Linked DNA regions of Homo sapiens: regions 2, 3, 4, 5, 6 and 7 are each reported to be linked to region 1. The links are microRNA targets in miRTarBase. Many come from high-throughput screens and were not tested one by one. Region 1 holds a microRNA gene; each other region holds the end of a gene's coding sequence.
What was found. The annotated mature microRNA hsa-miR-4271 reads GGGGGAAGAAAAGGUGGGG and lies in region 1 at 2,069-2,087, opposite strand. An mRNA with a match to its seed (bases 2 to 7 or 8) in the 3' UTR can be bound and repressed. Matches are read on the target gene's strand: a 7mer-m8 pairs with bases 2 to 8, a 7mer-A1 pairs with bases 2 to 7 and ends in A, and an 8mer does both.

Region 2: the mRNA of ASXL3 is a reported target of hsa-miR-4271. Seed matches in the 3' UTR shown: 8mer at 3,364-3,371 and 7mer-m8 at 4,211-4,217.
Region 3: miRTarBase lists GPR26 as a target of hsa-miR-4271. Seed matches in the 3' UTR shown: 7mer-m8 at 2,553-2,559 and 7mer-m8 at 2,370-2,376.
Region 4: the mRNA of FXYD1 is a reported target of hsa-miR-4271. Seed matches in the 3' UTR shown: 8mer at 847-854.
Region 5: miRTarBase lists RBPJL as a target of hsa-miR-4271. Seed matches in the 3' UTR shown: 7mer-m8 at 3,250-3,256.
Region 6: the mRNA of ORMDL3 is a reported target of hsa-miR-4271. Seed matches in the 3' UTR shown: 7mer-m8 at 817-823 and 7mer-m8 at 948-954.
Region 7: miRTarBase lists C20orf96 as a target of hsa-miR-4271. Seed matches in the 3' UTR shown: 7mer-m8 at 580-586.

Annotation. Positions count from the first base shown.
Region 1 is chr3:49,271,899-49,276,244 of GRCh38, reverse strand. It overlaps MIR4271 (microRNA 4271), which reads right to left and starts at 2,125; the gene lies at 2,059-2,125. C3orf62 (chromosome 3 open reading frame 62) reads left to right here. Exons shown (of 3, transcript NM_198562.3): 2 at 2,105-2,196.
Region 2 is chr18:33,746,280-33,750,625 of GRCh38, forward strand. ASXL3 (ASXL transcriptional regulator 3) reads left to right here. Exons shown (of 12, transcript NM_030632.3): 12 at 1-4,346. The coding sequence ends at 316. Among named protein-coding and RNA genes, the nearest start is that of ASXL3, 170 kb to the left of the region's middle.
Region 3 is chr10:123,687,035-123,691,380 of GRCh38, reverse strand. GPR26 (G protein-coupled receptor 26) reads right to left here. Exons shown (of 3, transcript NM_153442.4): 3 at 1-3,452. The coding sequence ends at 3,221. Among named protein-coding and RNA genes, the nearest start is that of GPR26, 23 kb to the right of the region's middle.
Region 4 is chr19:35,142,135-35,146,480 of GRCh38, forward strand. It overlaps FXYD1 (FXYD domain containing ion transport regulator 1), which reads left to right. Exons shown (of 8, transcript NM_021902.4): 6 at 338-387; 7 at 586-637; 8 at 783-975. The coding sequence ends at 608. It overlaps FXYD7 (FXYD domain containing ion transport regulator 7), which reads left to right and starts at 1,121. Exons shown (of 6, transcript NM_022006.2): 1 at 1,121-1,230. The coding sequence starts at 1,200. RefSeq lists enhancers at 782-1,342, 1,343-1,904.
Region 5 is chr20:45,316,158-45,320,503 of GRCh38, reverse strand. It overlaps RBPJL (recombination signal binding protein for immunoglobulin kappa J region like), which reads right to left. Exons shown (of 12, transcript NM_014276.4): 10 at 4,162-4,317; 11 at 3,924-4,027; 12 at 2,680-3,818. The coding sequence ends at 3,545. Among named protein-coding and RNA genes, the nearest start is that of MATN4, 10 kb to the right of the region's middle.
Region 6 is chr17:39,919,009-39,923,354 of GRCh38, reverse strand. ORMDL3 (ORMDL sphingolipid biosynthesis regulator 3) reads left to right here. Exons shown (of 4, transcript NM_139280.4): 3 at 92-243; 4 at 670-2,312. The coding sequence ends at 805. Among named protein-coding and RNA genes, the nearest start is that of GSDMB, 2.5 kb to the right of the region's middle. RefSeq lists an enhancer at 1-24.
Region 7 is chr20:267,276-271,621 of GRCh38, reverse strand. C20orf96 (chromosome 20 open reading frame 96) reads left to right here. Exons shown (of 11, transcript NM_153269.3): 11 at 355-759. The coding sequence ends at 415. Among named protein-coding and RNA genes, the nearest start is that of DEFB132, 12 kb to the right of the region's middle.

The sequences.
Region 1 (4,346 bases):
GTGTATATGTTCCAGTTGAGGGGCTAGTTGTCAATCGTTGATGTCAAAAACCAGTCATGGAAACCACTTTGCAGTACCCAAAGGGGTAGTGGATGTAAAATAACCGGGTTTTAAAAATAACCTTATTTTTTAAGTTGCAGAAACAAAAGTCTTAATTCCATCTTAACTCCTGTGTTTGAATCTGGACACTGGGGCCTTTGATACCCTCCTTTGCCCACATTAGGGAGAGGCTTAATTGAAGGCTGGGCCCTACTTCCTGGCTTCATCTTTGCCTCTGCTCCCCGCTCTTACCCCAGATCTTTTTGGACCATCACCAGGTCTCTTCTAGACTTTTTCTTCTCCCGAGTAACTTGAAATTGCCTGGTCCCAGGCACCTTGACTTGGAGAAGGGATGAATGTATGAGATGAAACTTCAGGCCGGGCGCGGTGGCTCACACTTGTAATCCCAGCACTTTGGGAGGCCGAGGCGGGCAGATCACGAGGTCAGGAGATCGAGACCATCCTGGCTAACACGGTGAAACTCTGTCTCTACTAAAAATACAAAAAATTAGCCGGGCGTGGTGGCGGGCGCCTGTAGTCCCAGCTACTCGGGAGGCTGAGGCAGGAGAATGGCATGAACCCGGGAGGCGGAGCTTGCAGTGAGCCGAGATCACGCCACTGCACTCCAGCCTGGGCGACAGAGCGAGACTCCGTATCAAAAAAAAAAAAAAAAAAAAAAAAAAAAACTTCAAAGTTCTGCCATCTTGGCTGCTTCATAGGAAGGGGATAAAGAGGCCATTTAATTGGTTCAACTCCACAAGAATTTTTTTCCTTTCAACTCCACAAATATTTATATTGGTACTCATAAGCAGTGCAGGCCTTGCCGGGTGTGGTGGCACGCCTGTAATCTCAGCACTTTGGGAGGCTGAGGTGGGTGGATCGCTTGAGGTCTGGTGAAACCCCGTCTCCACTAAAAATACAAACATAAGCCGAGCGTGGTGGCGCGCGCCTATGATCCCAGCTACTTGGGAGGCCGAGGCAGGAGAATTGCTTGAATCCTGGAGGCAGAGGTTGCAGTGAGCTGAGATCTTGCCATGGCACTCCAGCCTGGGCAACAGAGCAAGACTCCATCTTAAAAAAAAAAAAATGCTGGGCACAGTGGCTCACGCCTGAATCCCAGCACTTTGAGAGGCTGAGGCGGATGAATCACCTGAGGTCAGGAGTTTGAGACCAGCCTGGCCAACATGGTGAAACCCCGTCTCTACTAAAAATAGAAAAATTAGCTGGGTGCCGTTGCGGCCGCCTGTAATCCCAGCTGCTCCAGAGGCTGAGACAGGAGAATCGCTTGAACCCAGGAGAAGGAGGTTGCGATGAGCCGAAATTGCGCCCTTGCACACCAGCCTGGGCGACAAGAGCAAGACTCTGTCTTTAAAACAAACAGGCCAGGCGCGGTGGTTCACTCCTGTAATCCCAGCACTTTGGAAGACTGAGGCGGGCAGATCACCTGAGGTCAGGAGTTCGAGACCAGCCTGGCCAACATGGTGAAACCCCCATCTCTACTAAAAATACAAAAATTAGCTGGGCGTGGTGGCAGGCGCCTGTAATCCCAGCTACTCAGGAGGCTGAGGCAGGAGAATCACTTGAACCTGGGAGGCAGAGGTTGCAGTGAGCCGTGATTGCGCCATTGCACTCCAGCCTGGGGGACAAAGCGAGACTTCATCTCAAAAAAATAAATAAAAAATAAAAATAAATAAATAAGTAAACAAATGCAGGCTGGGTGAGGTGGCTCATGCCCGTATTCCCAGCACTTTGGGAGGCTGAGGCGAGTGGATCGCCTGAGCCCAGGAGTTCGAGACCAGCCTGGGCAACATGGCTAAACCCTGTCTCTAAAAAAGAAAAAAATTTAATACAGTCTGCGATGCTCGTGAGTCATTATGGTAAAGCTGTTAGTCAATTTCTCCACTGATGTAGCAGTTTCCAATTGTCCTTTAATCAAAGCATAAATGACAAGGTCACCAGTAAGTTTTTGTCTTTGAGATTATCTAAAACTGAGTTTCCCTTCAATATTTTCTTGAAAGAGAATCTAATTCCCCACCTTTTCTTCCCCCCCACCTGGGGGCTGCAGGAAAGATATGGAGAGAGATTTGAAGGCTGACTCAAACATGCCACTCAACAATTCTAGCCAAGAGGTCACAAAGGATCTGCTTGATATGATTGGTGAGTACAGTGGGCAAGTCCATCCTGTCCTTGGGAAGATAGGTCCTTCACATGGGTCTGAGTCAGCAAATATCTCAGATATAAGAAATGCTCTCGGCCAGGCACGGTGGTTCATGCCTGTAATCCCAGCACTTTGGAAGGCCGAGGAGATCGAATCATGAGGTCAGGAGTTCAAGACCAGTCTAACCAATATGGTGAAACCCCGTCTCTACTAAAAATACAAAAATTAGCCAGGCGTGGTGGTGCACGCCGGTAATCCCAGCTACTCGGGAGGCCGAGGCAGGAGAATTGCTTGAACCCGGGAGGCAGAGGTTGCAGTGAGCTGAGATCTTGCCACTGCACTCCAGCCTGGGGGACAGAGTGAGACTCCCATCTCAAAAAAAAACAAAAAACACTCTCTTCTAGCTTGGGTACCATACATAGCGAGATCTGTCTCTTAAAATTTTTTTTAATTAGCTGGGCACAGTGGTGTGTGCCCATAATCCCAGCTACTAGGGAGGCTGAGGTGGAAGGATCACTTGAGCCCAGGAGTTCAAGCTATGATCATACCACTGTACTGCAGCCTGGGCAACTGTGCGAGACCTCATCTCAAAAGAAAAAACACCACCACCACTTTTTGGGGGGAGAGACAGAGTCTCATCATATTACCCAGGCTGGAGTGCAGTGGCACGATCACAGTTCACTGCAGCCTCAACCTCCCTGGGCTCAGGTGATCCTCCCAGCTCAGCCTCCCAAGTAGCCATAGTACTACACTAGTACTACAGGTGCACGCCACCATGATTGGCTAATATTTGTATTAGGGTTTTGCTGTGTTGTCCAGGCTGGTCTCGAACTCCTAGTCTCAAGTAATCCACTTACTGTGGCCTCCCAGTGCTGGGATCAGGCAAGAGCCACCACTCCCGGCCAAAACACTCTTATCTTTTTATTTGGTAGATGTTTTGCTCAGACTCTGCATTGATTAGGGAACTGAATGTTAACAAAACCTGTCCCTTCCCTCATACAACTGATTATCTTGTGAGGTGATAGATACATCAATCAGGTCATGTCATCAATGTTTAGATGCACTGAGTCCCTGAAGGCAAGGGATGGTGGCCACTAGGACATGGTGATTGAGCTTAAATTTTTAGGAAACAGGACATAGGCAAAAAGGAGAGAGTAATTTAGCTGGGGTCAGTAATTAAAGATTAGGAGAAAAGGGCTGGGCACAGTGGCTCACACCTTTAGTCCTAGCACTTTGGGAGGCTGAGGCGGGCAGATCACTTGAGGTCAGGAGTTCGAGATCAGCCTGGGCAACATGGCAAAACCCCTTCTCTACTAAAAACACAAAAAATTAGCCAGGCGTGGTGGTGCACACCTGTAATCCCAGCCACTTGGATGGCTGAGGCATGAGAATTGTTTCAACCCAGGAGGCAGAGGGCAGAGGTTGCAGTGAGCCGAGATCGCACCACTGCCCTCCAGCCTGGGTGACAGAATGAGACTCTGTCTCAAAAAAAAAAAAAAAAAAAAAAAAAAAAGATTAGGAGAAAAATTAGAAGTCAAAAGCTTTCCTATAATTCTACCACCCAGAGATAACCACTGTTAATATAGATATAGTATAGCATACATCCTGTCAGACTTTTTTTCTACATACAAATCTGAATGTCCTGTATGTGAACTACATGTGCTCTATTTTTTATTTTGTCTTTTTATTATTAGTAGTAGTATTTTTTATAAATAGAGACAAGGTCTTGCTTTGTTACCCAGGCTGGTCTTGAACTCCTGGTCTCAAGTGATCCTCCTGCCTCAGCCTCCCAAAGTGCTGGGTTTACAGGCAAACCATGCCAATGTGCCCTGTTTTTAAAAAACTCATACTACAGCTCCTAGTAAAGGGATGTATAACCGTGGGTGCTGCCTGAAGCTGTTGTTTCTGAAGGATCTCCAGGTTATGAGGGAGGAAAGGGAGGCCTGGTGAGGGTAGGGTACACCCCCTGGGCCACAAAGTAAAATCCCTGCCAGCCTGTGACTTCAGTGGCCTGAGTCTCCTCCAGTAGCCCCAGGAGGTAAACTGAAGTCATTACTGCCTCTACCCACCATCTTCCTTGGCTTTCACCAACATCAGGGAGGTTTTTTTGTTTTTTTTTTTTGTTTTTTTTTTTTTTGAGACAGGGCCT
Region 2 (4,346 bases), not on the chromosome of region 1:
GCAGCAACAACAGCAGCTCTGTGGAAATTATCCAACAATACACTTTGGTAGCACGAGTTTCAAAAGGGCAGCATCTGCAATTGAAAAGTCCATTGGGATTTTGGGAAGTGGCTCCAATCCTGCCACAGGCTTGTCTGGTCAGAACGCTCAGATGCCCGTTCAGAACTTTGCCGACAGCAGCAATGCAGATGAATTGGAACTGAAATGCTCTTGCCGGCTGAAAGCCATGATTGTGTGCAAAGGCTGTGGGGCCTTCTGCCATGACGACTGCATAGGTCCTTCAAAACTTTGTGTAGCATGCCTGGTTGTACGATAAGAGCTGAGTGAAAGATGCAGTATCCCTTTTCCACACGGAAAAGCCAAATAGCATCAGCAACAACAAATAGAATAATGCAGTGGTTTCTATCATGCTAATTTATTTTGCTTTGGAGCAGGTACCTTTCCTCTATGGCATTATTTTCTTGCATTTCTCATAAAGGGGAGGATGCATCCCAACTGAATGGCTCACTGGCATGTCTTTTATGTGTTCAGTTGCCATTCCTAGCTTTGGAAAGTTTCTATCTGTCCATGTGTATACAAGTCAATGCCCCATTTTTGTTTTTCTTTTAACCGAGGTGTAGATAGGAAAAGGACATTTTTAATTACTTAATAACCGGAAATGCAGATGTGTAAGGAGAATGAGAGGAATGAGTTAAAGTGGTTATGCATTTTTCTATAGATGAGCCATTACAGCAAGGAATTTTACAGTTGACTTCTCTGAACCTAGCTTTACCACAGTGATTAAATCCTATTTAGAAAGGGGAATCTGATTTAAATGTGTGATTCCTTGTATTTGCTCCTATCACAAAAGATATATTAAAGGAGGTATGCCATTAATGAAATCCACTGTCCTGAGTATTATCTTTCCTCCTGTTGTACTTTCTCAGAGACTATGGCAGAATATCTGGATCTTCCTTGGATTTTGTACACATATTGTAGTGAAATGTGTCCTACATCTGAAATTGCATGGGACTCATGCCCAGCAATCTGGTTCTAGGCCTTTGACACCTGATAATATGAGAGCAATTGGCCAGCCAATAGCCATAAGCCCAGAGGATTTTAGAGCTTCATGTGTGGCTTTTAAGAGCAGGTTTGAAAAAAAAAAAAAAAAGACCCTAAACTTCAAAGCAAGGAAATAAGATGCTGTATATGCACACATAAATGCATTGATAATGTAAATATCCTATTCACGCTAATGAATTACTAGATATTAAAAGTGGGGGGTGGAAATCATTGTAGCCCTTTATTGATGACACCCATTCATTCTGGCTTCAGACCTTGCAGAGGTTGGCCATATCTTTTTAAAAGTGTCATTGATGATAAAAGGGACTACCCAAGGCTAAAGCGTCAACATTTTTCAGAACAATTGCTTTTCTCATTATTTACAACCTATATAATTCAACTTTGAAATAACCCTTATTTTGAAAAAAACTGTTCTAGGTATGGCATGTTTTGTTTTTTCCCTCAGGTATATTCAATACATTCTTCATATTTGGGGGAACTGCTTTTGAAAAAGGGATACTGCATCTTAACAGTTATCTTCAGTGTGCATCCAGTAAAGTCTGCGTGTTGAGTATTTGAGCTACATTCCATATATTTTGGCCACCCTCATACCAGAGGACAGCCGTAGTTCAGGAGGCTCTGTTTTCAAAAGCAAGTTCAAAAGCACATGCACATTGAGGGAAGATGAAAGAAAACAAAAACCAACCATGCCCATTTAACTTCAGATTACAGAGCACAAAATGTGGAGTGCCATTAACCCATTGATTGATTGTGGCTGTAGAATTTAAAAAGCAAACATGGGGGGGGTGGGGAATCATCTGTATCCAGGGTAAGAATGACCAATATTTTCACATGGGATCATCCTAATCACTGTAAACTTTTTGACATTCCCGTAAAACACGTCTTAAAAGTTGACTGGAATGAGCAGAAATTACATTCCTGAAAACAAGAACACTTGTGATTTTTTTATAATAACCAACTATATAATATGTTTTTTTCTCCGTATTTATTGTGATGTTGCCAAATTTCTTTCTTTAGGTGATAGAGACATCATTTCGAATAACAAATTGCTGATAGTGAGAGGTACTTTACTTTATCTTAGAAAGAAAGAAAAGGCCTGCTGCTGTAGCCATGATTTTGGTGCTTCAGTACTGTCATTTCTGTTTTTCACAGTAAAATTGGCAAAACTAATGACTGAGAAAGTTAGTTAGCAATGCACTTAACCAGCCTTACCCGAGGAAAGCAGCATAAGTTCCAGTGGATCCTTAGTTTTCTCTTCACTGCCTGCCAGGTTGTGTTGGGGTGGCATCCTTATCAGTGGTGTCTTTGTCTGCCTGGCTCTGATATCATCCTGATTTCGAAGATCATGCTGTTAGTCTCACAGCGGGGCACCCCTATAATATAGACACTTGCATGCCAACTCCTTCCAAATTCATTCACTGCTATACCAGTGTCAGATACTGTCTACACCAGCAAATTGAAAACCATCACATCAGTAACTGACATGGTGTCGGAAGAAACTCCAGTCTACAGAACCTTTGCACTCAGTATGTGAGGTACAATTGAGGCTGATGAGATACTGAGCTCATTATCAGTTCCTTCATTGTTGAATACTGCCTGCAAGTTGCTTATTGGGAATAAGAAAAAGTGTCCTTCTGTATGTTTTGATTTTTCACATAACAGGCTTGGAGAATCAGTTGTTGATAGTGCATGGATTCTATCATCCAGGTCCGATTAGCATAATTTTTCTGCGCCCTTTTTTTTTTTTTTTTTGCTCCAGTTCAAATTCCTAGTGTTCTCATATGGTTTATATTACTGAAAAATTAATATCTTTAAGCTAAAATATAAGGGAAAGGAAGAAGAGAAATTTAGATGTAAAATGTGGGTCAGATATTTTATAGGTTTCCATTTAATATATATATACACACAAAATCCAGTATATTCTGAGTAGGTTCTTAGTTTTCTGATTTCTACATGTGTCTGCTATGTGCAAATGTAGTATATTATTTACTACATGGTTATTGTGGTGTAGTGTGCAAATGTTAGCATGTGCATTATCCTGATTACTGGACACAGTTTTATTCTTATCAGGAATAGAACTTGCACATGTACCATACAATTTTTTTTTTTTTAATCACAAAGGATGTATTTCCCTAAGTAGCACTTTTGGAGCAGGGGAAGGAAGAAAACTGCTATTCCCTAATCCTCCTCCTATAAGATATGCATATGCCTGAGGTGTATAAAGACATTTAGGTTAGTTAATGGGCATGTTAATAAGAGCATTGTGATGCAAATTCATTTTCAAAATGAAAATAATTTTTTCTTCCCCAAAATGAGAATAGTAGAAATTTTGGTGAACTGAGCACCATAGTTATATAATATTTCCCTGCGAAGGTCTAGTTTGAAGAAAAAAAAAACTTGAAAACAAACCTATGAGGTTGAGCCTGGTTGCTATAAAGACTTTGGGATGGTATGTGTTTCTGGGATGAGCTATATAGAAAGTTTAGTTGACTGCTGGACCTTGGATATTCTTACTCGGTTCAAAATACACAAAAACAAGCTGGTACATATGGTGCTTTATAATGCAGTCGAGAGTAAGAATACATGTTGCTGTAGCCCCATTTCCTTTACAAACCCCCGCACAATTTCAAAAGTGGAAGTTACCGTGGCCTCTGGTTTCCCAGTTCCTCCGTGGTGTAATGAAGTCCCAGGTTTTAGAAGCTGAAGCCAAGCCTAGGGTAGCATCGTCTGTACGGTGGTGAGGCCCAGCACAGCGGTAGCTGCCTAGTGGGAATGACCCCCTGAGCATGCAGAGCCCAGAGTCACTGTCCATCTGCGTTCCCAGAGAACAATTGTGAAGAGTCCTAGAACAGGAACTCTGAATCAGACTGTCAGGGGCCTATGTAGCCAAAATGTTACTAAATATAAAATTCCTGTCGTCTTCAGTCTTCATGCTTTGTCACTGTAAAAAGAACAAAAAGCATTTTTACTATAATTTAAAGGAGCTGCTTTTTTATAGCACATACTATTTCGCTTTGTACTATATTTGATAGTTGCAGAATAATTTAGACTGTAGAAAAACTTTGTTGTATTTGTACTGTTCTTGAATGTTTCAAAGAAAGTGCTTTACTTGGTTGCCATAATTTTCTTGTACTGCTGTATTCCCCTCCTTCCCCTGCTTCATGGAAACCTGATATGATACATATTTTCAGTAGTTTTTTTTTTTTAATGTGTGTTCGTTTGTACAATTTTTTTTTTTTGGTCAGTATTCTGAATGTTTACATCTGTTTGACATTAGCCATTTA
Region 3 (4,346 bases), not on the chromosome of region 1:
GAGTTTTATTGCTCATGGGGACAGGAGGCTGAGCTGAGTGCTAGAAGAGATAGAGTTGGTCTGAGATGGTTCAAATCCATTTCCCCTCCTGCCCAAGCCTGCTTTCTAAGTAAAAACAGGCAGGTGATTGGTGAGCCATCTTTGAGAGGCGAGCTGACCATGAGACAAACCCTAAATACCAGGGCACACATGCAAATGGACGTTCCCTTTGGAGGTCCCTCGGCTGTAAAATCCCCTCCCTCAGAAAGGTGCCATATAAAAAGCCGGAATAGTTGCAGCGTGACTTAAAAAGGCAAATTCTGATTGTGTAGGACTAGGAACTCAGCCCTATATGTGGATTTAGGAATTTGAAAGCCCCTCCTTTATGGCCTTATTTTCAAGCTTCTTGAAAGATTTCTACCCAGTCCAACAGTTCACCAGAGTTTGGGCCTTAAAGGTCAAGTCTCACCCTGGAGTGAAGTCAAGCAAGTAATTTTAGTTTGATTCAGATGCTGAAAATCTTGGTGTTTCTATGTGTTATACCTGAGAAAACAATGTTACCTTTGATAAATTAAATTAACAAAATGAGGTAGATAATTCAATTGGGAGTAATAAAGCCAGGGGGCAAATTTGATAGACTGTATAGAGATGAAAATAAACATTTATCTAAAGGTAATTACAGCAGAGTTGGCTAACACTGGTTGCTAATACATTAATTTTCTTCTCACTTTCCCTTGGGATTTAATTCATGTGTCCAAATAATAATGAAAATACCCAATCAATGGATTTATCTGGAGTTTTTGTCTACGTGATGTCGGTACAATTGGTTTTAGAGGTATAGTGAAAATTATGAAAAGCATCTTTTCAAGATATGTGGTGTTGTGGGTGACAGATCTTGCTTCTTGGCTAAAGAAGAGGTAAAAGAGATCTAGTTGCTACTGGGAGTACAACATGTTGCCTATACAGTACAGAGAAAGCAGAAAGAGCATGTGCCACAGTTATTCTCCCAAAGTGATATTGATGAAAATGTATTTTGCTGCTGGAATTTGGCTGTTGACTGACCTCACGCACTGGGCCACTTTTGCCCAACTTTGAAAGCGTTTGTGTGAGAAGGGAGCTACTCTCCTCCAATTCAGCTGTGCATCCTGTCTTGGCTTCTGCTGGTTTTCAATCCCACTGGTTCCTCTGGGGTTGGGATGTTGGAGGGTGCACAGTTACTTGCCACCAGGAAGCAAATGTCTGTTGCTATTGTAATATGAGTGGCCAAAGGAGCTCTGAGCCAGAGCAATTTTGTTTCAGGGACACACACAGTCATGTCTGGCAGTGGTGTGCTAGTAGATGTTTCACAATCAGCTCTCTGTGGGGCAAAAGGCCTGATTTACAGCACTTGCTGATTTTCATGGTATAAACACTCCCACCGTGGCTGACTTCAGCTACCGACATGATGCCCCAGATCATGAAATTGGGAAGGATTGTGCCCCATTGGCTTCCCCAAGCAGATATGAGCCCATCTCTGACAGCAACTGCAAGATGCCAAGGCCTCCTTGGAAGCTACACCTGTCTCCATTCTAGTCTCCATGGTAACTTTGAAACTAGACAAGACTAAGCCAGGTGAATTGTTTTCTAACTGAGGAGCTAAGAGTTAATAAGACGTCTTTTCAAATAAAGATGCAGATACTTCTCTGCCTTTAAAAATTGGGACTGCCTAGAAGTAAAAACCAATAGACTCTTCACTTCCTTCCCGTTGGACCACATCCTTCCTTCTATACCTCCAAAGTTAGGATGTAAAGAGCTGGAAGGAGAGAATGAGCCATCTGATTCCATTGCTCCCCGTGCTTCCCACCCTGGAGGAATCACTTAGAGTGGAGGATTGAAAAATAACTGCTCTGAGTATTCACAAGTCAATTTGAAATGGTAGACAAAGAAGAGATGGCCAGAAAGCAGGGGTGGCTCTCCTTGGTTTTTATTAAATCAAGTCAGGACTGCTAACAGATTGGCATGTGTTTTATAGGTGCAGTATTCCATAAAAATTTCACTGTCTCTAATCACTTGAACCTGGAAGGCAGAGGTTGTGGTGAGCCTAGATCGCACCATTGCACTCTAGCCTGGGCAATAAGAGTGAAACTCCCATCTCGAAAAAAAAAAAAAATTCACTGTCTCATCATTAGCACAGGGCACTTTCTTGATAACCTTGAATAGCCTCTACTTTCTGTTAACAGGCTTACAGAAACTAAGGAAATGGAGGTGCCAGGACAATGGAACCCAGTGACTTAAAATCAAGGCAAAAATCCCTGCTCAGGCCAGTTCTTGCCCATCCATCTCCCAGGACATGCCAGATAAGATGCATAAGACAAGTTGAAACACTTCCTGTAAATTCAGGTCACAAACAGGGGGAAGGGAGGACCAACCAGCCACCTTCCTCCTACCTTTACTGAGCTCCAACAATTAGGACTTGTAAATCAGAAAAAGGTGACCTCCCAGTCAAACTTGAAAGAACCTAATACATGTAGGACCAGCCTATTTAAACCATTTTCATGCTAAGATTGTCTGCACACACAAACATTCGCTTTTAGGGGGAAGGAGAGGACTAAAGTTGAATCCAATTGACCATTTCTAAGACAACTGGTCAGCAGCAATTGGGCAGCCACTAGTTGTGAAACATTTTCCCTCAGGCACAGAGCCCAAGAGTCCCAGCTGGGCACAATGTCGTTAGTACCAGCTGAATAATATTTGGGTTGAAGCAGCCACCACTACCCTGTGGAGACGAGGTGCCATGTTAGATCCGGGCCAAATGACCACTGCCAGCCTCCCTTTCAGCATGGCTGAAATGTCCCCTGGAGACTGTCACTTTTCTTCAGCATGGAGCAGCGTCCAGTGGTCAGCAGGCAGGTGGACACCATGCTTCCCACCTACCACCAGCTCTCTGCATCCTTGACAGTGACAGAACTGAGTGTCATCCCCCAGGGAGCCTCAGGTGAGTCCAGGAGCTCAAAGCAGCTTCTTAGAAAGAAAGGCCAGCACACGGCCTACAGTCATCCTTTGGTGACAAATAAGGAGTGTCCAATATCTGCCCTTGAGGAACCAGGAAGCAGGCTCTGGAGCCCCTACAAGCCAGGGAACCAGGATCACTGGGCATGCCAGGGACTGGTGGCTGGTGGTGTCCACCCAGGGGCCCCCACGCCCTCCCACCCTTCTTCTCACCGCTGCCTCATTCTAAACTCTTCAGCAGGAGCGCGGTCCTTCACTCAGACACCGGCAGAATGTTCTGGCTGTGAGAGTCGCCTGTGAGGCCAGAGGAGTGGATGGAGCGTCTGTGCAGGAGCCTGTTCAGAATCTCCTTGCAGCTTTTGCGGTACTGGTGTCGCAGTAAGGAGTACACAAAGGGGTCGGATGCGGCCTTGCTGTACGCCAAGCACTTGGACAGCACCCCCCAGTGGGAGCCGATGGGCACCGTGGAGAAGAGCTCCACTAGCCTGTGGAGAGACAGGGAAGCTGTTAATGAGGACATAGCTAAGCACCGCTGGGAGTGGCCATGGGCCAGGGCCTGTCTGTGCCCTGCAGACCACGGTTTCGCAGCCCAACCCTCAATTTATCTGAGACTGCCTCCTCAAATAACAATAACAGTTTACACCAATGATGATGATGGTGAACATTCATCAGGCTGTATTTTATTCTACACACTGTGTTAAGCACTTTCCATATGTGGTTTTGCTGAGCCCTGGGAGATATGACCATCTCTGTTTTACATGCAAGGAAACAGATGTCCCAGGAGGTTAGATACTTTGCCCAAGGTCACATGGCCAGTAATTGTAAAGGCAGAATTTGAACCTAGGTCCGTCTGACTCTGAAATCCAAGCTGCACTGAGAACCCAGCTATTAGCTAATAGCTGGCTGTCTTGGCTTTGGCGCCAACTCTGCTGCTGACTTGTCATATGGTCCTGGGCATCTCTGTTCACTCCTTGGACCTGCATGTCTCATGTGAAAAACAAAAAGGTGGGACAATATCGTCTCAATGATCTTTTAACTAGAAGAGTCTGGTCCCATTGTTTGCTTCCGATCCTGGCTCTGTGTTCCTAAGGAAGTTGCATGGAAGGAAGGGCTCAGAACAATTTTGAAAACATTTTGCAAAGCTCAAAGTATGTCATGCACAGGAAAGAATGCTGGCAAGGAAGGCCTCTTCCCTGGGTTCGGATCCTGGTGGTCTTTGACAATAGCCGCGGTCAGGTGATCCTAAAGGGACCTTCATTCTTTGGGGGAGGGCAAGGAAAGACACAGCCCATGTATCTTAGAGTCCTCTCGGTGCCACCAGACAGCTCCAGGCAAGGGTGCTAATACCATGTTATGAGGTCAGGGAAAGCCTTCAACAG
Region 4 (4,346 bases), not on the chromosome of region 1:
AAGATCACTCAAGTGGAAGATGGGGGGTTCTGGGTTTCCAACCCAGGCCATCTCATGGCAGTCTGCCAAGTCCCCATGACTATCCCTCCCCCACCAACTTCACATCCCTGCCCCCAAATCCGCGGAGGTACTCACTGTTAACCAGCTTAGAAGCCCCCTGCCAGCACATAAGCTGCTCCTGGGTGCTCCTCATTTCTGGCGGACCCCGAGCCTGCTCTTCGTCCATATCTGGGCCTAGTTACACCAATCTGGGAAAGGAGGCTTGTACTGGGGGGTTCCTAGAAGGGCAGCCTCTCCCCCTTTCCATCCCGAAATCCCTCTGCCTCTGTCTTCCCAGGACTGGGGAACCCGATGAAGAGGAGGGAACTTTCCGCAGCTCCATCCGCCGTGAGTCTGGGGAGACTGCGGGTATTCTGGGGAGAGGGCTGGTTCCAAGGACCGCTTTTCCCGGCCCTCCCTGGCTGCGTAGAGGGAAGGGCTGGATCTGAAAGCGGAGGGCGGGGAGTTGCCCCGCCGCGGGCCCCACCTGCCCAGGAGCTGGGGATGCCTCTCCAGAATGACCCCCGATCTCCGTGTTCCCCCCAGGTCTGTCCACCCGCAGGCGGTAGAAACACCTGGAGCGATGGAATCCGGCCAGGTGCTGCAGCTCTGACACGGCGGTGGGAGGGAAGGAGGGAGGAAGGAAAGGCGGGAGAGGGAGGGGGCCAAGTGCCAGAGTTGAAGGGCGGCGAGGGGTGGGGCTGGACGTCCCCCCTCGCCTCTCACCCTTTTCACCCTCACAGGACTCCCCTGGCACCTGACATCTCCCACGCTCCACCTGCGCGCCCACCGCCCCCTCCGCCGCCCCTTCCCCAGCCCTGCCCCCGCAGACTCCCCCTGCCGCCAAGACTTCCAATAAAACGTGCGTTCCTCTCGACAGCACTTTGTCGGTCTCGGTCCCTCAGCGCGAAACGCCAGCGCCACTGGGCCCCAGCAGGGGGCGCCCCACCCTAGAGGAAGGGGCGGGGACGACGGTGGTGGGCGGGGGCGGGGGCGGGGGTGGCCTGCACGGGGGCGGGCTCCCCGGGCCCCCATTGGCTGCAGGCCCCCCCACGCCAGGGCTCCCCCCAGCTCCCCCCCACATCGGTCCGTCCTGCTTCCAGCTGCTGCAGCGCGCCTTCGCCGCCAAAGCATCCAGCAGCCCCCTGCTCCGGCCCAGCATGGCGACCCCGACCCAGACCCCCACAAAGGGTGAGCGTCGTTTGGGGAGGGGGTTGCAGGGGGGCTCCGGGATCTGAGAGCCTAGGAGAGAGGGTGTCGGGAGATTCAAGCAATGGTAAGGCAAGGGAGTTGGGGGAGGGAGGTCCGCTCCTCCTGTGGGCGGAAGCCCCTGTAATGCGCCCCCCCGATCGCCCCTCCGGGTCTCTGGGACACCCCCTCCCCGGCAGGCGTCCTGTGCCAGACCTGCGGTTGGAGAGTGGCAGTCCCGGGAGAAGGGATGCTCGGACAGGTCGCTATGGCAACCGGGTGGCTGGTCCCGCACCGTGGTGGTAGCAGACGGGGAAGAGATGAGCTTGCAGGGTGGGAGCGGGTGGGTCTGCGACCAGAGACGTTCTGGAAGATTTCAGGGTCCCTGGGGTGGGCAAGGGAAGGGGAGGAGGTTCATGTCCCTCTTCTTTCCAGTGCTGTCTCCTAGGGTGTCTGTTTCCTGAAACCCTTGACAGCCAGGTTCAGAGGAAAGGAGTGAGAGCTGAAGGAAGAGACAGAGAGAAGGGATATAGCAAGAGACAGACAGGGAGAACCTGGAAGAGACAGAGACCAAGAGAGGCAGGAGATCCAGAGTCACAGATACAAAGACCCAGGAAGACAAATAGATGGACTCAGAGAGATTCCCAGTGGAGGGGAGAGGCTGAGAGCAGTAGACAGAGATGCAGAGAGAGAGAGAAAAAAAAATGAGAGCCTGGGAGATAGTGGGATTGAGACCGCTATGGAGAGAGAAGCAGAGAGACGGAGGGAGAGAGACGGACCCATGGGGAGAGAGGGGAGTAGAAAGAGAAGAAGGGAGCCATGTGGGGTGGGGCCCAAACCACTGCAGTGAGACCCTATGTGTGGGAATGGGGCGATGGGACCCTCCTTCCAGCCCACAGCAGGGGTGTTTTCCAATCCCAGAGGTGCTGTTGGGTATACACCTAGCTGCCCCTACTGCCCCCATCCAGCCACACACTGATTTCCATTCCACACCAATTAACCCAGTTATGCACCCACTTAAACACCCACTTCTACCGTCGCCCCCTAATAGCCCCCACTGCTAATCCTGCTTCTGCAGATGAGCAAGGCACAGACTGCTTCAAGAGGGAGCCAGTGCCCAGCAAGGGTCTCCAGCACTGAGGGCAGGGGACCAGGGGTGCTGAGAAGCCCCTGGCAGTGAAGGGAACCCGAATTCCACTTGGATGGCTCCCTCCCTTCCGCGCTTCCCAGCAGGCGGGGGCTGCTGCACTGAGCCATATCTGCAGAATCCGAAGCAGGGCGGGGGGTGGGGGGGGCTGCAGAGGCTGGAAGCTACCCTAGGGAGGGGGGCAGGGCTGAGGCAGCAGGCCTGGCGGGAGCCCAGGGCTTCTTTTTGCAGAGGTGGTGGTTAGCAGGATCGATGGCAGCAGACGGGCAGAGGTGGGAGGACAGACTCCTCAACCCAACCTCCTCTGCCTCCCCCTTTCCCAGTCACAGCATGACAGGGGACCGCAGGTCTCGGGAAACCCCGGGGGAGGAAAAGCATGTTGTGCATTGCAAGCTGCTTAAGGAAACTAATTAATGAATTGTTGGGGAGCGAGGGGGGAAGAGGGGAGAGTCTCCCTCCACCCTGCCAGAGAACAGGAGGGAGAGTTAGGAGTGAACAGAAGAGGGATGCATGAGCACAGCTGGGTCCGGGTCCCTATCCCTGAAATGGACCCTTAGCTTGGCCAGAAGCCAGTCCTGCAGGGGCAACGGCAGGAGGTGCAAAAGGAGGGGAGAGGGTCAAGATTGAAACCTGCATCTCACACAGGACCTCACAGGGGACCCCACCCAGCCTGGGGTGGCGGGACCTATCACCTCTCTTCACCTCCCAAGATGCCCCAGTTGCCATAGCAACCACCTCCTTCCTGATATCTCTTTGGCAGCTGGCCAGGAGTAGTGCACATTCCTTTGCCTGACTCCTGGCCCCACCCTTAGCCCAGCCACGCCTGAGGGCCCAGGTTGCCGGGGCAGCAGGGACCAGAGGAGGATCTTCCGCATGGAGGAGGATCTTCCACATGGAACACCAGATTCTGGGACAGGGGCTCACCCAGTGGGCTCCCGATAACTTTGGGGAAGGACGGGTGTGTGGAAAACAGACAAGTGAGACAATCCACCTTTTACAGCCTCCTGCAGCCTAGGACTGCCTCATAATCATTCCTTCATTCATTCATCCCAGAAAACTTGAAGAGCCTTTCATAAATGTCAGGATGAACAGCAGTGATGAGTCAAACAAATTTACTCTCTGGTGGGGAAACTTACACAGAGCACAAGGGACCCTGAAGCAGCGTCTCACCATCTTGGCGCTTTTGAGTACTACCGTCACAATTTTTGCTTTATTCAAATATTCCTCACACTGCTATTTATTTAATTTTTTTCCTTAAAAGGATTAGCTTTTTTATTTTTATTTTTTGAGACAAGGTCTCACTCTGTCGCCTAGGCTGGAGTGCAATGGCACGATCACAGCTCACTGCAGCCTCAACATCCTGGGCTCAATCTATCCTCCTGCCTCAGCCTCCCAAGTAGCTGGGACTACAAGGCACTTCTGCTACACCCAGCTAATTTTTGTATTTTTCATAGAGACTGCTTTTGCTATGTTTCCCAGCCTGGTCTCAAACTTCTGGGCTCAAGCAATTCACCCACTTTGGCTTCCCAAAGTGCTTAGGATGACAGGCGTGGGCCACCATGCCCAACCCAGGATTAGCTTTTGAAAACAACGAGCTTTATTTTATAGCACCATCACAACTGGAAAATTAATCTTCTTTTTTTTTTTGAGACAGAGTCTCGCTCTGTCATCCAGGCTGGAGTGCAGTGGCACGATCTTGGCTTACTGCAACCTCTGCCTCCCGGGTTCAAGCAATTCTTCTGCCTCAGCCTCCCAAGTAGCTGGGACTAGCAGCGGCACACCACCACACCCAGCTAATTTTTGTATTGTTAGTACAGATGGGGTTTCACCATATTGGCCAGGCTGGTCTCAAACTCCTGACCTCGTGATCCGCCCACCTTGTATTCCCAAAGTGCTGGGATTACAGGCATGAATCACTGTGCCCAGCTGGAAAATTCATCTTCTTTTTGCCTTAAGTTGAAGGCAGCATAAG
Region 5 (4,346 bases), not on the chromosome of region 1:
CGGCCCGGTATATTAATTTTTATAGCGTGGCAAATGATTCTAATATAAAGAGGACTAAATTAATCCATAAATGGGTTTTAGTGTTAGGAAATTCCCTGGAAGTATGTAGAATTCTGTGCATAAACCCCCAAAGGGTCTCCCTCTGTCACCCAGGCTGGAGTGTAGTGGCACAATCACAGCTCACTGCAGCTTCCACTACCTGTGCTCCAGTGATCCTCCCTCCTCAGCATCCCCCCGCCCCCACCCCATAGCTGGGACTACAGGCGTGCACCACCACACCGGCTAATTATTATTATTATTTTTTTATTTTTTTGAGACGGAGTCTCACTCTGTCCCCCAGGCTGGAGTGCAGTGGCACGATCTCGGCTCACTGCAAGCTCCGCCTCCCGGGTTCACGCCATTCTCCTGCCTCAGCCTCCCAAGTAGCTGGGACTACAGTCGCCCGCCACCACGCCTGGCTAATTTTTTGTATTTTTTGGTAGAGACGGGGTTTCACCGGGTTAGCCAGGTTGGTCTCTTATCTCCTGACCTCGTGATCCGCCCGCCTCGGCCTCCCAAAGTGCTGGGATTACAGGCGTGAGCCACTGCGCCCGGCCCTATTTTTACATTTTTTTGTAGAGATGGGGGAGGGGGTCTTGTTATGTTGCCCAGGGTGGTCTCGAACTCCTGGGCTTAAGTGATCCTTGCGCCTCGGCCTACCAAAGGGCTGGGATTAAGGCCCGGTTTTTAAATATAAATAAAATGAGAACTTAATGCTCGGGTGGAGAACAGTGCCACCTGCCGGTTTCACTTTGCATTAGCAATATCTAAATATCTGCCAATGCCATATAATGCAATTCACTGTTTATTGAGCACCAACTCAACATGCGAGGCATTGTGATGCACCCTTTAGGACATGCAGAGATAAGAGCTCCTTTCCCCATGAAGATGGCAGCCTAGAGGAGACAATGGGCATGTAGGTAAAACCTTTGATCCAAAGCAGGCAGTCGATATGGTCCCATTGAGGGTCTGTGGGAATACAAGAAAAAAGCCTGGGGCCAGGGCTGGCTTCGTGGTTGTGCAGCCTGTGCTTGGAAGGCCCCTGCACTTGGTTTCATCATTTCCTGTGGCTGTCTTGAAGTTCTTTTTTTTTTTTTAATCCCGTGTTCAGTCGAATTGAAATTCTTGAATAATTTTTGAACAACGGGCCATTTTGCACTGGGGCCCACAAATTATATAGCTAGTTCTACCTAGAGTAGTTTGGGAAATTTTGGAAGAGGCGACACAGGACCTGGCAGGGCAGTAGTGGAGGGAGAGGAAAACAGGAGGCATATGGTAGTGTGGAAGTGGGGGTGGGATCCTTAGGCCTGGGTGACTGGGTGGTGTGGGGGAAGGAGCTAGAGGTGGTGCTGCAAGGCAGGTGGAGAGGGAAAGGAGTTTGATGTTAGATGGCTTCAGACTCAGTGCAAGGAAGACCTCCAAGGACAGTTTCAGCAGCTGGAACTCAGAAGCTAGGCCAGGGCTGGAGCTTTGGTCACAGACTTCCAGATGGATACCTTGGGGACACCAAAGGTTATAGGATCCCCTGAGATGGGTGAGGACTAAGACAGAGCTGTATGGCTGGGTCTGGGCTTTTGGTCCAACCTAGATTATTGGCTTCTGGGACTCCTGCCTTGAGGAGTGGTGGAGGAAGACTTTGGGGGCAGGGCTGGACGATGAGCGCTTGAGCCCCAATTCCCCATGTGGTGCGCTATGACACTCTTCTCAGCCTCCTCCCTCCTGGCTGCCTGCTTCAACACCACCATGGACGGTGAGTCAGGCGCTCATTTCAGGGACATTTCCCATTCAACTCATTTGCTGCCTTCCTCAGCCAAGATTCACCTTCAGGGGCCACAGGCTTCTTCCTCACCCCTCACAGTGGGTTGCAGCCTGCTGATGGCAGATGGCAGAACTTAGTCAAGACTTTGGGAAGGCTAAAGAACATACCCCATTTCCTCTCCTCTGCGTATTGTTCGTTTCTTTTTTCTCATGGGACTTTCCATACCCTGGGGGAGGAGTTTTACAAGAAATGAGCTCTTCCTTAGGAGGGCAAGCTCTTCTCCAGAGGGTTAGAACCTAGAACCCACATTTCAGACCAGTTTTCCCATCAGGCACCACCAGAGGCTGGTGCAGGTAGCTGGCACCCATGATACTTATCTGTGTCCTTGATTCCAATAGCCCAAGCCAGTGTTCTGCCTGGTTTTTTTTTCCTTCCCTATAAAGCACAGACTGGGTAGAGTGGTACCTAGGGTGGGTAGGCTGGTGGGGAATAGATTGTGATTCTGTCCATCAGCCCCATGCAGAGAGGCCCCCCTCTCAACTACATTACTGCCCAGTCAATCCCAGGAGTTCTGCCCAGGGCTATCCTGGGAAAGCTTTGTTTTGAAAGGGTCCCGTGGTCACCTCTGGGCCTGGGGTGCACCCTTGCTTGGGATGGAGAGATAGCTAGTAGGGTAACAACCCCAGGGCAGGGACAGGGACTCAGGATGCCAGCTGCCTCTGCACCCTGTTCCTCCTCTAGAAAACGTCCAAAAGGTAGGCTCTCTGCTCCATCAGACTTGTGGTTCTTTTCTTTCTGTGCAGGTCCCCTCTTTTGTGTGTTGGTGCGAGGGTTGGGGGAGGCACACTTGGGGAGGTGGCTCATACAGACCAAACTCTGCCTTGGATAGGATTGATTTTAATGCAGCTGTAGAATCCCTGATCCTCAGGACTGCGTCCTGCTGGGCCTGTGGGAGAAGTGACTGGGGGGGACAGTTAAGGCGGCAAGACCTCATCACTGTCCAGGCACCTGCCCAGCCACCAAATCTGTGGACCAGGGAGCAAACACAGGCAAAGGTACTATGCCTGGCTGCAGTCAGAGAGAGTCTCGGGAGGAGCAGGTCTTTGTGCTCTAGGGCAGGACACAGTGCTCTAGGTGGGAACTGGTGCCCCAGGTGGGACCGAATTCCCCAGGTGAGACTTAGAGAGACCCGGTGCTCCAGGTGGATCTAATATTCCAGGAAGGACCTGGTGCTCCAGGGTCCTGATGCCCCAAGAGCTTGCCCCCTATGCCTGGATGTGTGAAGCTGTGTGTTTTCTCTTCAAGAGGGGACACAGATGCCTGGAGGGTAAATGTCCCAAACTTGGCTCCTCGGGGCATGTAAAATTGTGTGTGAGAGGCAGGGAGAGCTGAAGAGAGAAAAGGACAGAAGGATAGGGACACGCACATAGGTCTGTAGACTAAGTACTGAGGGGGAAGGGAGAGAGAGAGAGGTTTAGAGACAGAGTGAGAAGAAATGAAGACAGGGAGAGCCATACACGACGGACACAAAGACAGCACCACTCAGGTCTTGTCTTCCTGTATGTGTAAGGACAAGGGAGGGAGTGAGCCGGGTAAGACCCACCAGGCCCGGTTTCTAGGGTGAGCCTTCAGCTGCCCTTCTGCAGCAAAGGGGCAAGGAAGCAGGGCCTAGAACCCAGAAACACGTCCCCGCGCCTGGCGCGGGCGCAGCCCTCCAGGGTGGGCAGCCGGGGCTACCGGGCGCGCCTAAGTCTGGATGAAGAGGTGGAAGTTGGTGCGCGTGAACTCCTGATGGATGCTCTCCAGGAGCGCGTCGGCGTCGGTGGCGGGCTCGGGGACGCCGGGGTGACCCGGCCGCACGCTGTATTCCGGGGTGTAGGTGAAGGAGAAGGCACTAGGGTAGAAGAGCCCGTCGGCGCGCACCAGGCTCATGGGGATTGTGATGGGAGCGCGCAGCCAGCGCCAGTCGCTGCAGAAGGCCGCCACGTCCGGCACCACGCACACCAGGGACCGCGGGCTCCTGGGGGTGGAGCACCAGGGTGAGGGCTGCGGCGACTCCGACGACGCGTGCACCCCCTTCCCCTGCTCCCCGGGGCCCAAGAGAGGCTGCCTCACCACCCCGTACCTGTACATGGTTTCTGCCTCCACGTCCCCAAACCACACCTTGAGCCCCGCGTGGAAGTTCTCTCCGTGGAGCTCCAGCGTGGCCACGTCGCCCCCGCCGCTCAGCTGGGGGAGGGTGGGACCAGGTGAGGTGAGAGAACCAAGTAGGGCGGGAACCCGCTGCCCCCCACTCACTAGCACCACCACTGCCCAGTGCAGGCAGGGTCCCCCTGCCCAACGCCCCTAGCGCCCGGCTTCACCTCTAGGGTGCTGATGAGAGGCACCGGAGTGACCGGCTCCAGGGTACACGCCAGGCTGGTGCTGAAGGAAAATTCCACCGACTCGGTGCCGATGATGGTCCAGCAAGAGCTGTCGTTAAGCAGAGCCCTGTTCGCCTCCTTGGGGCAGGGAGAGGCCTGGGAGGAGACCCAAGGGGACGAGGCCG
Region 6 (4,346 bases), not on the chromosome of region 1:
CTGGGAGTTACTTGTGTCTGTGACTGGGTGGAGGAGCTGGGCAGGGGGGCCTTTCCCTTTTGTATCCTCTAACAAAGACTTCTTCCTCCAGGGCATGTATATCTTCCTGCACACGGTGAAGGGGACACCCTTTGAGACCCCGGACCAGGGCAAGGCGAGGCTGCTAACCCACTGGGAGCAGATGGATTATGGGGTCCAGTTCACGGCCTCTCGGAAGTTCTTGACCATCACACCCATCGTGCTGTGAGTGCCTGGGCTACAGGAAGACACCAGCAGGCAGGGCAAGGCCTGGAGGACCCCAGGGCCCAGCCATGCTTATTAACCCTGCCGTGGCTCCTGGTGTAGGGATGAACAGAGGAAGTTGGAATATTCCTGGGTCTTACACTGGACTCAGGCTTTGGGCCTCCCTGGCCCCATCTTTCCTCCATTGGAGCTTCCTTCCTGCTAGTGAGATAGGCCTACAGGCTTGGGGTGAAGCTGGGAGGTGGGGGCGGTACTGGGCCAGGAGGGGCCCCTTTAGCCTGAGAGCTCTTGCTTCTTACGCTGGTCTGGGAACCTCTTCTGTAACTCCTTAGCTGTTGGGATTCTGCCTTTCCCCTCCCAGGAAGTGAGGGAGGAAGGGGTCCTCCCAACAGTCTTTTATATCTCTCCCCACCCTTCCCCTCCCAGGTACTTCCTCACCAGCTTCTACACTAAGTACGACCAGATCCATTTTGTGCTCAACACCGTGTCCCTGATGAGCGTGCTTATCCCCAAGCTGCCCCAGCTCCACGGAGTCCGGATTTTTGGAATCAATAAGTACTGAGAGTGCAGCCCCTTCCCCTGCCCAGGGTGGCAGGGGAGGGGTAGGGTAAAAGGCATGTGCTGCAACACTGAAGACAGAAAGAAGAAGCCTCTGGACACTGCCAGAGATGGGGGTTGAGCCTCTGGCCTAATTTCCCCCCTCGCTTCCCCCAGTAGCCAACTTGGAGTAGCTTGTAGTGGGGTTGGGGTAGGCCCCCTGGGCTCTGACCTTTTCTGAATTTTTTGATCTTTTCCTTTTGCTTTTTGAATAGAGACTCCATGGAGTTGGTCATGGAATGGGCTGGGCTCCTGGGCTGAACATGGACCACGCAGTTGCGACAGGAGGCCAGGGGAAAAACCCCTGCTCACTTGTTTGCCCTCAGGCAGCCAAAGCACTTTAACCCCTGCATAGGGAGCAGAGGGCGGTACGGCTTCTGGATTGTTTCACTGTGATTCCTAGGTTTTTTCGATGCCACGCAGTGTGTGCTTTTGTGTATGGAAGCAAGTGTGGGATGGGTCTTTGCCTTTCTGGGTAGGGAGCTGTCTAATCCAAGTCCCAGGCTTTTGGCAGCTTCTCTGCAACCCACCGTGGGTCCTGGTTGGGAGTGGGGAGGGTCAGGTTGGGGAAAGATGGGGTAGAGTGTAGATGGCTTGGTTCCAGAGGTGAGGGGGCCAGGGCTGCTGCCATCCTGGCCTGGTGGAGGTTGGGGAGCTGTAGGAGAGCTAGTGAGTCGAGACTTAGAAGAATGGGGCCACATAGCAGCAGAGGACTGGTGTAAGGGAGGGAGGGGTAGGGACAGAAGCTAGACCCAATCTCCTTTGGGATGTGGGCAGGGAGGGAAGCAGGCTTGGAGGGTTAATTTACCCACAGAATGTGATAGTAATAGGGGAGGGAGGCTGCTGTGGGTTTAACTCCTGGGTTGGCTGTTGGGTAGACAGGTGGGGAAAAGGCCCGTGAGTCATTGTAAGCACAGGTCCAACTTGGCCCTGACTCCTGCGGGGGTATGGGGAAGCTGTGACAGAAACGATGGGTGCTGTGGTCCTCTGCAGGCCCTCACCCCTTAACTTCCTCATACAGACTGGCACTGGGCAGGGCCTCTCATGTGGCAGCCACATGTGGCGTTGTGAGGCCACCCCATGTGGGGTCTGTGGTGAGAGTCCTGTAGGATCCCTGCTCAAGCAGCACAGAGGAAGGGGCAAGACGTGGCCTGTAGGCACTGTCTCAGCCTGCAGAGAAGAAAGTGAGGCCGGGAGCCTGAGCCTGGGCTGGAGCCTTCTCCCCTCCCCAGTTGGACTAGGGGCAGTGTTAATTTTGAAAAGGTGTGGGTCCCTGTGTCCTCTTCCAGGGGTCCAAGGGAACGGGAGAGGTCACTGGGCCTGTTTTCTCCCTCCTGACCCTGCATCTCCCACCCCGTGTATCATAGGGAACTTTCACCTTAAAATCTTTCTAAGCAAAGTGTGAATAGGATTTTTACTCCCTTTGTACAGTATTCTGAGAAACGCAAATAAAAGGGCAACATGTTTCTGTTTCCCTGTGTCTGGCCTTCGCTTCCTGGAAGGCTGAGGGGAGGGGGCAGGGGTGTGGGCAGCGGCTCCCGCTGAGGTGCTGGTGGGGCATCAGTGCAGCTCTGACGGTGGCAGGAGGGGCGCTGGGACTGCTGGGCTTTCTGCTGGCTTCAGCAGGGAAATCCCCCAAGGGGGCTGTGAGGGAACTGGCGGCGGCAGCGGTAGTCAGAGAGCAAAATTCTCTGTGCTTTTGCCTGGCTGTTCTCCGACAGGTCTTGCGCCTTGGCCCCAGAGGCTGGGGTGACCTGTGCCATGGCCAAGGAGGGGGACACTCCAGCAATGGTTTACACGTGGAGCCAGGGTCCCAAGTGGTGCTCAGTCCTTCCCAGTGAATCCCCAGCCCTTCTCCAGTTTCTCACTTCTCTCCCCAAGGCCTTTCCCCAGTCACCTCTCCCTTGGGAGCGCTGCGTTTCCTTCTGGCCTTTCAGTGGAGGGGACTTTTCATACTTCCTCCTCCCACCATAAGCCTGAGTGGCAGGGGAAGAGGTTCTGGGGACTTTCTGAGGCCAACATGGCTAGGAGAGAGAGGAGTCCTATAGCAAGGAATCCTTATCTCACGAGGGCACTGACCTTCCAGCGTGTTCTGGGGAGTATCAGCTGCTATTCCCAGGAGAGGCACAAAGTCCCAGGTAGAAGGGAGGAGCTGTCCCCAGCAGCCTGGGGTCTCTAGCCCCGGTCCACCATCACAGCACCCTTGGAGTGAGTGTCAGGGAGTGTGGGATATTTGCCCAAGTCCAGCCACCACCCCTGTCCGAGTAGAGCCCACACAGTATTGGAAAGAGAAATATAGCCACTGCTTTCACTCCTGGGAGTAGGGGTGCCCTGGTTGCTTTCACCAGCCTGCAAGAGTATAGTCAGGGTGAGGTGCTGGAGAACATCAACAACGATCTGGGTTCAAATCCCAGCTTTGCCACTTATTAGCCATGTTGCTGTGTCAACTTCTCTGAGCTTCAGTTTATTCCACTGTTGTGTAAAGATAATGCCTCTTAGGGCTGTTGTGAGCATTAGCACAGTGCCTGGCATATAGTAAATACTCAATATATGGTAGCCATATTATTATAATTGTAATTGTTACTACCACCACTGTCGTCTATTTATTTATTTATTTATTTATTTTTTTGAGACTGAGTCTTGCTCTGTTGCCCAGGCTGGAGTGCAGTGGCACCATCTTGGCTCACTGCAACCTCCGCCTCCCAGGTTCAAGCAATTCTCATGCCTCAGCCTCCTGAGTAGCTGGGATTACAGGTGTGTGCCAAAACATCTGGCTAATTTTTTTTTTTTTTTTTTTTTTGGTAGAGACGGGGTTTCGCCATGTTGGCCAGGCTGGTCTTGAACTCCTGGCCTCAAGTGATCTGCCTGCTTCGGCCTCTGAAAGTGTTGGGATTACAGGCATGAACCACCACGCCTGGCCTGTCATCCCTTCAAATGTTCTTTCAGAACTGAGGCATGCAGAGGCTGGAAGACAGGCTGGGCTCACCGGGGTGGTTATCTCTGAGAGAGGACATGGGTGAGGTCAGAGGCCTCTCCCTGGAGAAGGAGGTAGGTGGAGAAGCCAGATGGCATCCAGATAAGGAAGACCAGCATCTCCTTGAGAGTGTACACGGGAGCACGAGATGGGGAGGGAGGCTGAGTGCTCCTTACAGGCCCACCCTGTTGCCTCCAGGTGTTAGCTGCTGTTGTCCTGGGTCTTCAGTGTTGACCGTCGCATGGCATTTGGGCAGCTGGTTCTGCTGGGTTATGGTCCTCATGTCCCTGGCACAGACACAGCCATTGCCTGCTGGCACTTGATACCTACTCATATTCCATTTCTCTATTCCAAACACACTGGATTGCATGGCCCAGGGCGCCACGGTGTGCACCATTGTCTGGCCCACACTCACCTAGAATACATACCAGGATCTCCTACCCACTCCTTAGGTACAAGAAGAAGAAGGGGTTCTGGCCGGGCATGGTGGCTCACACCTGTAATCCCAGCACTTTGAGAGGCCGAGGTGGGT
Region 7 (4,346 bases), not on the chromosome of region 1:
ATCCTCACTCCAAAGCCAGTGATCATCTTGAGGGCCCTCAGCATTTCAGAGCTGAGTTCCTGCTCCCTCTTGACCTCAGACTTGTCAGGGGAACATTTGTCCTGCCAAACTCATTTCTTTTCCATTTTTGATGTGTGTGTATGTGTGTGTGTGTGTGTGTGTGTGTGTGTGTGTGTGTATGCTTGTGTATGCACAGTTGGGCTTTGAGGTCACAGATAGATCACAGATTGTATTTTGGGATTGCCCCCCAACCCAAGTACGTACCAGAGTTCTAAAGAGCAGGGCTCCTCTGAGTGGGTGCTCCCACACCGCCACCTCTGGTCTCTCATGGCCTTCTGTGCTGCCTCCCACCAGGTGCACCCCAGACATGGATGTCATCCTCAACATTCCTGTGGAAGAGCCACTACCCTTCTAGATGGCAGTGCCATGGGCCGCCCTCCCCTCCTGCTCTCTTCCCAGCACCTGGAGCCTTGGATCATTTACTTCCAGGACCGGATCTCCATTCAGACCCTGATCTACAGTCTCCCTGCTCCCTCTGCCCTTCCTCCCTCTTTCTTTCCCTCCCTCCCTCCCTCCCTTCTTCCCCCCTTCCCTTCCCTCCTCCTTCCTTCCTCCTCTCCCTCCCTCCCTCCTTTCTTTCTTCCTGTGGTTTTTTCCTCTCTTCTTCCCTTCTTTCTGGTTGGTGCTGCTGGGCCAGGTGGGAATTTCTGATTAAATCTGCTATTCCTTTTTTACCAATAAAGCTGGATTTACATTTGCTTTTTTGCCAGTGTCTCGGGGTCCCCAGCTAGGTCTTGCAGAAGATGTGGTGGGAACGGACTTCGTCTTATGATAAGGGGCGGGCAACTGTGCTAACTGCATCTGGGGCTCAAAACTTCTCCAGAAGAAGTGCTGGAGCAACCCCCTGCCTGAGTCTCCATGGCTCAGTGGCTCTGGGCCACTCCCTCCTGGTGCAGTGGGAGCCCAGCTTCTCTCCAATCTGTGCCCAGACCTATTGAGGGCATTGTCGGGGCTGACAGGCTTATTGATTTTAATACCCCTGGAACTTGCTAGGCCTTCAGTGCTTGGAACAACTCAGAAGGGCTACTCTGGCTCCAGAACTTCCTGAAGGCTCAGCTGCAACTACCCTTGGGCCTGCACTGCAGCTGAACTTCTCCCTGTGCCCAATCCTGCATATTTCTGTCTTCCTCAGTTGTTGATTCCAAGAGCACTCATTACTCAACATTCTGCACCCTACACTCCATCTCAGAGTTGGCCTTTCTGGGCCAACTACTAGATTGCTACAACCCCCAAGAGGCTCTGGTCACTCACAGATCCACTTTGTGTTAAGATACTTGGTTACAGGTAACAAAACAACCAAATCACATTGGCCTAAACTATGAAGGGCTCAGGTCAATAAATAGCTTAGGTGAGGCTTTGTCCAGAAATCAAGTGATGGCACCAAGGACTTGGTTTCTATTTATCTACTTTGTTTTCTGAGGTGTTGCCCTTTTCTTCAGGTCAGCACTGCTTGTGGCCCCAATATGCCAGCATCTCCCAGGGTTGTACAGGTCCTTGTACATGTCCTGTTGGAAAGAGAGAGACTGGCTGTGTCCCAGAATTTTCAGCCAGTGTATTAAGATTCACTGTAATTGGGCTGGGCACAGTGGTTCACGCCTGTAATCCTAGCACTTTGGGAGGCCGAGGTGGGTGGATCACTTGAGGTCAGGAGTTCGAGACCATCCTGGCCAACATGGCAACACCCTGTGTCTACTAAAAATACAAAAATGAGCTGGGCGTGGCAGCAGGCACCTGTAATCCCAGCTACTCAGGAGGCTGAAGCAGGATAATTGCTTGAACCTGGGAGGCAGAGGTTGCAGTGAGCTGAGATTGTGCCACTGCTCTCCAGTCTGGGTGATGGGGGATGAGACTCCGTCTTTAAAAAAAAAAAAAAAAGATTCATTCTAATTGAACCAGCTTATATTACACGCCCACCTTGAGCCGGTGTTGGAGGTGGAGCGTGCCTGCTGGTTTAGTTCAGGTCACGGGCTCTACCTTGGAGCAGGGAAGGGATGGTTAAGGTGGAACACGTGACCTAGGCTGAGCCAACAGGTACTCCCCAGAGCCATGTGGATCTCCAAGCAGAAATGGACCCTGTTGAACACAATAGCAAACACTTCAATGGAACCTACGTTATGCTTTACATACATCAACTCACTACACCCTCACAACAACCACCCTGTGAAGTAGGTATTGTTTATTGTTATTTTCATTTTACAGATGAAGAAACCAAAGGATGAAAAGGCAAAGTGATTTTTCAAGTCACCAGGTTACTAAGTGGCAGAGGCAGTTTGCTCTTAACCACTGTACAATCAGGAGCTCAGCTGAGCAGGAGAGAGCTGAACTGCTAAGTGCTGGAGTAGCTGATTAATGATGGCCCGGCATGGTGGCTCAGGCCTGTAATCCTCACACTTTGGGAGGCTGAGGCCAGTGGGTTGCTTGATCTCAGGAATTTGAGACCAGACTGGACAACATGGTGAAACCCCATCTCTATAAAAAATATAAAAATTAGCTGGGCATGATGGTGTGCACCTGTAGTCCTAGCTACTAGGGAGACTGAGGTGGGAGGATTGCTTGAGCCCAGGAGGCGGAGGTTGCAGTGAGCCGAGATCGCACCACTGCACTCCAGCCTGGGTGACAGAGCGAAACCCTGTCTCAAAACAAAAAAAGTCAAAGCAAGTAATAGCCAAGCCCCAAATCTCTTATTATTACAGTACAAGAAAGAGGCTAAACCAGAGAACCTGGTTTGTTTTATTTTGTAGAACACAGATCCACCTGTTCTAATTTCCTCATAGAATGATGCCAACTGGGGTCGGGTGGATGAGCACAGGTGTGGGGTTGGTCTCACTGCAGAAAAGCTTCCAACAAAAAGGCTCCTGAAGTTGTACGGACCTGGGGGCCAGGGATGGGGTGGGGAAGGGAGAGTGGGAAAACTTCTGAGTCAGCATGGAGGAAAGTGTCTTCAAGGATTCTCCACTCCCCAAGATAAGGAGGTCCTGGCCGAAGGCCTACCCCACTGCAATGAAGACGTGTCTGAATGAAGACTTGGGTTGGGAGCGGAGATGTGTGTGAGAGGTCGACTGTCCAGGAGGCCTGAGTCTGTGTCTGCAACTGTCTTTAAAGACTGCAACGCATCAGCTGTGCACGACTCAGCTGTGAGGCCTGCCAGGTAAAACCTGTCATTGCCTGTGTTTGGGCTGAAAAATCACACATAGGTTTTTAGCCAGGAGCTGGACTGTTTGTGAAGGGATGCATGAGTTCAGAGGAGGAAAACCAAGAAAGGAAGCCTGGACATAGGTTCCCTCGCATTGCACGTAGCCCTCATGCCTCCGAATGCGCCAGAGAGTGACCCCGCACATGTACAGCATCTGTACATGGGTGTCTTCCCAGGTACTCAGAGCCGCGTGCGCAGCTCTCACAGGCAGATACACCTGCATGCACATGCACATGGATGCATACTGGGACTGTTTCTTTTCTTTTTTTCTTTTTTGAGACGGAGTCTTGCTCTGTCGCCCAGGTTGGAGTGCAGTGGCACAATCTCTGCTCACTGCAACTTCTGCCCCCGGGTTCAAGCGATTCTCCTGCCTCAGCCTCCTGAGTAGCTGGGATTACTGAGGCCCGCCACCATGCCCAGCTAATTTTTGTATTTTAGTAGAAACGGGGTTTCACCATGTTGACCAGGCTGGTCTCCAACTCCTGACCTCAGGTGATCCATCCGCCTTGGCCTCCCAAAGTGCTGGGATTACAGGCGTGAGCCACTGCTCCCGGCCCATCTATCATTCTTTATTGGAGTACCGGAGGGCAGCAGGAGTGAGAAAGAAGAGGTTTATGGGAACCCGAGGTTGAAGGGGAAATCAGCACTGGATATCACCTTTAATGGGAAGGACAGGCAACTGGGACGTCTCCAGAGCACTTAATAAGCTGTAGAGGTACTATTTAGATGACCAGACATTATTATTATTTTTAATGTAGTTTTTATTTTTATAGATTTACGGGGTACAAATACATATATTGCATAGTGGTGGAGTGGGCTTCTAGTGCCCCATTACCCGGATAGTGAATGTTGCACCCAATAGGTAATTTTTCAACCCTCACCCCTCTCCGCCTCCCATCGTTTGTAGCCTCCAATGTCTATTATTCCAATCTATACCACACATTACTTTTTAATTTTAGTAGGAGTTGGTTGAAAACCCTATTCTGGGGCTCAGTGAGTCCGGCTAATTGGGTAAATGGAAGTTTCATGGAATTTCCTGTTCCCTAAGGCCCGTGTCTGTGTATCTTGTGAAGTGTGAGTCTTGGCCTGGATC